Regions from separate parts of the Homo sapiens genome. Here region 2 is linked to region 1. The links come from fine-mapping of genetic effects on gene expression. A gene starts in region 1. The other region holds a variant in brackets. All regions are shown on one strand. Distances are between the middles of the regions. Region 1 holds the start of NAE1 (NEDD8 activating enzyme E1 subunit 1). Region 2 holds the start of LOC107984821 (a long non-coding RNA gene).

What was found. PIP is the estimated chance that this variant, and not a neighbour inherited with it, causes the effect.
Region 2: its variant is the best candidate, but not a certain one, in a credible set for the expression of NAE1 in fibroblasts (GTEx, PIP 0.52).

Annotation. Positions count from the first base shown.
Region 1 is chr16:66,829,345-66,832,247 of GRCh38, reverse strand. NAE1 (NEDD8 activating enzyme E1 subunit 1) reads left to right here and starts at 1,272. Exons shown (of 20, transcript NM_003905.4): 1 at 1,272-1,401. The coding sequence starts at 1,349. RefSeq lists silencers at 1,312-1,536, 1,518-1,577, 1,588-1,797 and an enhancer at 1,048-1,548.
Region 2 is chr16:66,903,181-66,906,083 of GRCh38, reverse strand. LOC107984821 (a long non-coding RNA gene) reads left to right here and starts at 824. Exons shown (of 3, transcript XR_001752244.2): 1 at 824-993. RefSeq lists an enhancer at 427-2,903. The variant C/A (reference allele first, on the strand shown) is at 1,619.

The DNA of each region.
Region 1 (2,903 bases):
TGTTCTCATGGGGTAACCTCCTTCCTTGGCCTCCCATCCCCACAGGACAGCCGTTCTCTTCCTGAAAGGAGGGTCTTTTCAGGAAGTGGAGGACTTTAAATTCCTCCTTGGATCTATGTTCACAGTCTTCAGAACCCAGCCTGTCCCAACTGTCTCTCAAACCTTCTCAACCACTCCCTATCCTTCACCTGACCAAACTTACTCTAGCACCTACAGCTTGCTATGCCTTCTTTGCTTCCTAGAGATGGCACCTGCTGTTCCTTATGCTTAAAACACCCTTCCAGCTGGGCACAGTGGATCATGCCTATAATCTCAGCACATTGGGAGGCCAAGGCGGGCAGATCGCTTGAGCCCAGGAGTTTGAGACCAGCCTGGGCCATGACGAAACCCCATCTCTACAAAAAATGTACAAAAATTAGCCAGGTGTGGTGGTGCATGCCTGTAGTCCCAGCTACTTGGGAGGCTGAGGTGAGAGGATTGCTGCCTGGGAGGTTGAAGCTGCAGTGAATTGAGATCACACCACCGAACTCCAGTCTGAGCAATAGAGAGAGACCCTGTCTCAAACAAAACAAAACAAAACAAAACAAAACACTCCTCCATCTCCAAACCACATGAAACATTCTTGGAGAGGGGGACTGGGGAGGTTCTTCTGTGCACCCCTGAGCACCCTGCTTCCCTCTATCTAGAGGAAGGCCACATTGTCTGGTAAGTGCTTGTTTGCTGTCCCTCTTCCTTCATGAGACTAAACTCTCCAAGAACAGAGCCCTGGACTTGTCTGCATCTGCAGCAGGGAGCCCCTAGCTTTGTGATTCAAAATAGGCTTGTGGGCTTTTCATGAGAGGAAGAAATGGGTGAAAAATAATGATCATCAAAATGAAAGTTATTATTCATGCAAGATTTGGGGGGAGTCTGGCCTCCTGTATTCAAAATCTCATTTAAGGTCAAAAGACACTTGGGACCCATTTATCCCCACTGCACAGGTGAGCACACTGAGGATTTGAGAGGTAAAGAGTAGATCTCACAGCCAGTTAAGTGGTCGAAATACAAGTATGCCTGATTCCAATGCCCCAGTCGCCCCCAATTACTGCATGGACAGAGGGCAAATTGGCAGGCTAGCGGGTCTGCCTTTCTGGCCGATGGGGACCAAGAGCCCCAGACCCGCTCGGGTACCAGGGCCGCTTAGGCCCCGGCGTACCGGCGACGCGTGCGCAGTGCAGTGCGGCGCCCCCTGCAGGCAGCGCGCAGGAGACGGTAGCGGCGAAGGGGCGCTCAGTGCGCCTGCGCGCTTGTGGAGCTGGTGGCGGCGCTCCGCAGGGGCTCGGCTGTTTTCCGCGCGGCAGGCGCGGCCATGGCGCAGCTGGGAAAGCTGCTCAAGGAGCAGAAGTACGACCGGCAGCTGAGGTGAGCCGAGGCTCACCGAGCCGAGGGCGGGCCGGCGGGCTTTCCAGCATTCGGGCCGGGCCTAAGGGCGCGGGCGGCGCGGTCGGGCCTTCCTCAGGCCTTCTTCCAGGCTGGGCCGGGCCGTGCGGGGCGCGGGAAGCCGGCGCTCGGAGCTCCCGCCCTGGGCCAAAGGTGCTCCGCGAGGGCTGGGACCCCTTCCCCCGCCACGCGGTGTGCAGTTCGGGGGACGGGGTCCCCAGCGCCAGCCGGGTAGCTAAGGCGGCTGCCGGCCCCGTTGCGCCCAGGCTCCTCGTTTTCCGAATGGGGAGGCCCGGGGCGCACCGCATCCCGGCCGCGAGGGCGGCACAGAGGGTTAGGTTTTGTTCTCAGCCAGCGCTGTCCAATGGAAATAAAATGCTAGTCTCATGTGAGCCGCAAATGTAATTATAAATTTTCTAGTAACCACACTAAAGGTAAAATGAAACAGATGAAATTGATTTTTAAATACAATTTAACCCAATATGTCCAAAACATTACTATTTCAACACAATATAAAAAGTTCTTGAGATATTTTACTTAAATTTTTATTTTTATTTTTATTTTTGTTTTTGTAGAAACGAGGTTTTTGCCACCTTTCCCCAAGCTGGTCATGAGTATTTTCCTTTTTAAAACTGTCTTGGAGGACCGGCACGGTGGCTCACGCCTGTAATCCCAGCACTTTGGGAGGCCGAAGCGGGCGGATCACCTGAGGTCAGGAGTTCGAGACCAGCCTGGGCAACATGGTGAAACCCTGTTTCTATTTAAAAATTCAGAAATTAGCTGGGCGTGGTGGTGCGCGCCTGTAATCCCAGTTACTCTGGAGGCTGAGGCTGGAGAATCGGTTGAATCCAGGAGGTGTAGGTTTCAGGGAGCCGAGATCGTGCCACTGCACTCCAGCCTGGGTGACAGAGCGAGACTCCGTCAAAAAAGCCCCCCCAAAACTATCGTATAAATATTGTATTTTACACTTACCAGCACATCTCAGTTAACACTAGCCTCATTGCTTGTGCTCAGTAGTACATGTGGCTAGCAGCTACCTTAATGGACAGTGCAGGCCTAAGCCATCAGGAGGGTCCTTGGGTACTTCCCCACCCTTGCCTTTTCTCCTTGCACTACCCATTCCTTATTTATTGAGCGTCTTCTGTGTCTTGAGGCTGTGGAGATAACAAAGCTGCTCAGCTTTCCTCCTTCCTGGAGCCTCTGAGACAACAGAAGTTATATGTCCCCAAGGACTGGAGCTTCTGTTTGCGCCACCAGCCTAGTGCTGTAGTAGAGGCTTTAGGCACTTAGTTCTGAGAGTACCCTTGAAAGCAACCATTTCCTGTGCTTTACAGTTGGAGAAACAGAGTCTTGGAGAAGTTAGGTAATTTGCCCAGAGTTCCCCATATCTTTGAGCCAGGATGTAAACTAAGGCTCTTCTGGCTTTTTCGGAGGTACTCAGTTACATCCTGCTTCCAAGCTTTTCGGAGAAGAAACAGGGTAAC
Region 2 (2,903 bases), 74 kb before region 1:
TCTACATAAACAGAAAGAGAGAAAGGTGAGGATCAGAGAGGGGGTGTGGCTTATCCTGGGTCGCAGAGGAAGAGAGACACAAAGCTGATTGGTCTCTAGGCTTGGCAGTGGGCCAGTGAATGCCTGTAGAGATTAATGCTAGTGAGGCAGGCTTCATTCTGTAGGCAGGGCCTCGCCCCTGCTAGAGCAAGGTGGGGGCCAACCAATAGCTCTATGGGTAGAAGAGCATGTGTTGTGCTTATCCATGCGATGTGTTCCCAGGAAAACTGCTTCACCTCTCAGAGCCTTGGCTTACTTGGTGATACAAGTTTTTGTCGTTAGGAAAACTACATGAGATAATCCCTGCACAATGCATTTAGCACAGTGCCAGGCACTGCAGGGCTCAGTAAATGTGACTTTCCCCAGTGCATGGATTGTTGAGGGACCTACATCCCCGCACTTACACACACTCCCTAGAGGTCCCAAGAGGCCCAGGCTTTTGGGAGGGAGTTTGGAGAGGGGCCCCAGCTCCAGCCCCAAAGCAAGAGTGCAAGACACCCCTTCCAGCCCCAGCTCCCTTCCAGTGCCCAGGTGCTCTTAGGGTCTGTGATGTCCAGGGTCTCACAGGGTTCTGGGCTGGAGCTGGAGGGGGTTGAGGGGTGGGCCCCAGCAGAGGCCTCATGCTCCCCTTCTCCCAGGCCCCTTCCAGAGGCACTGGGCCAGATCAAAGGGACCCAGCACGGAGGATCAGGAGGCAGCTTGGAAAGAATGTAAACATGAGGATATTTTTAAACTTTTTCCAGCCCCAGCGATTAGGGCTCTTGAAGCCGGAGGCCCAGAGGTCAGTCTGGCCCTCACCCACAAAGAAAGCAACAGTCTCGGGCCCTCAGAGACCCCACCCCACCCACATCTACCTACACCCACCCAGGACTCTAGCTGGGGCCTCGGGGCAGAAGTTCTTCCTAGGGTGTCACCTCCAGACACACTGCTGCGGCGGGAGGATGCGTTTCTAATGTGAGGGCCTCAGCGGCATGGGACCCTGACTTAAGGGGTGGTGGGGGCCTACCAGACAGGGCTGATGTTGGAAGACTGAGCTTGGGAGGCTTCTTAGTGGCCCAGTCACTCTACCAGGCGTGTGTGCACACGTGTGTCTGTGGGTGTATAAGTATATGCTGCAGTCTGGTCTGTGTGATGCACGCATCGGAATGTGTGAGTGTGCGAGGAGCTTGCCTCGGCCCACCCTTCCTCGTTCTTCCCTAGCATCCCTGACCTCCTCCCTGGGACCCCTTTGGTAGGTGGGTGACATGGGGGGGGTACAAAAGAGGAAGAGTCGCCTGAGAACAGGGAGGACGCGAGGAGAGAAAGGCGCCAGAGCCGGGGGCGAGGAGGCTGGGGGTACCAGGTCCGGGGCCATGCAATGAGTCAGGCTGTGAGAGCTGCAGGAGTCACTGATGTGGGGACTGGGACTCGGCTCCCTCCATCACCCCCATGTGTCACAGTTGGAGATGAGGCTCCCTGGATCTCCCGATTCCGGTGTCACAACTACGCTCACCATGGGTTCCATGACAACAGCCTCTTACCTTGTAGTCACGCAGCTACCCTCACACCCTCACAGGAGTGTCACAGGACTCATGCAGGG[C/A]CCCCCCAACACCACCCAGTGGTCGTATCCCAGTGACCCCTATCTGTGAGACATGAGGACCCTCACTGTCTTCACATCCCCACTGACCAGAAAGCCAGAATTCACAGGGGCACTCAGAAGCCAGACTAGACTGTGGTCACCAGGACAACGGGGTACCCAGCCCCTGGAGAGGCCTCGGCTGGCTATCTCATTCTCCAGGGGCTGCTGTGCCACCTTGCCCTGCTTGTGGGCCCTGAGAGGGACAATGTCCAGCTCCATGTCATACAGCTCCCCAGTGAAGGGCAGGGCTCAGGCCCCAGCTCAGGATCAATGTGGCGATGGCATCCCCTCCAGATTCCCCCTGCTGAGGCAGCAGCCACAAGGGATGAGGCTTGGAGTTTTACCCTAAGATGTGGTAGGATTTTGGGCCCAGGATGATGGGGGAGCTAGGTGGGGCTGGAACTGATGGAAAGGGGAACCTGGAGACTCATCCTCAGTCTGAGGCTGAGGCTGGACACCTAAAGACATGGTTTGTGTCCCTGTGGGTGCCCACTCACTGGGGCTGTTGCTATTCTTATCCACCTCCCAGTGGCGGTGGCAGTGGTAGTGGCAGTAGGGTCAGAGATAGCTGCTACGTGGGAGAGAGTCATGAGCACCAGCCCTTTATCTGACACATTCCCTGGAAACTTGGCAGGGCCTGCCAGCCTCTGGGGGCCTGGGCGGGGCAGGGCGTGAGGTGGTCACAGGGATAGGATGAGGGGGCTGGGCTGGGCTCAGTGCCGATGAGGACCCGCTCCAGCTGCCTCTCCCACAGCCAGGCAAGGTCCCCTCAGAATTGGCCTGGGGGGTTCTAGTGAGATTTCTTCCCATGCGGAGACTAAGACCACAGGTCACCCTCAGCTCCTACTCACCCTCAGTCCAACCCAGAACACCCCACCGTTGGCCCCATCTCTGAGCTTTGGGCACTCCAGAGAACAATGTATTGGCTTCCTCAGTGATGTGGCTTCTTCCACGGGAGAGCACTGAACTGTGAGCCACAGTGGCCCCATCTGGTGGCTGTCCTGCCTACTTCCCAGCCTCGTGATCTTGGGCAAGTCAATTCCCATCTCTGAGCCTCAATTTCCTCATCCCTCTCCTGGGCTGTGGTGGAGATGACAGGGTCCAGTGGTCAGGAAGCAGGCTGACGGCTGCAAAATGTGAGTGTGTGTGCACGTGAGCACTTGGGTGGGGGGGCCAGAGTGGGGAGAGGGAGGCATATGGGTCTCCCACTTTGGGAGACTCCCGCCCTATGGATTTTCCACTGGCA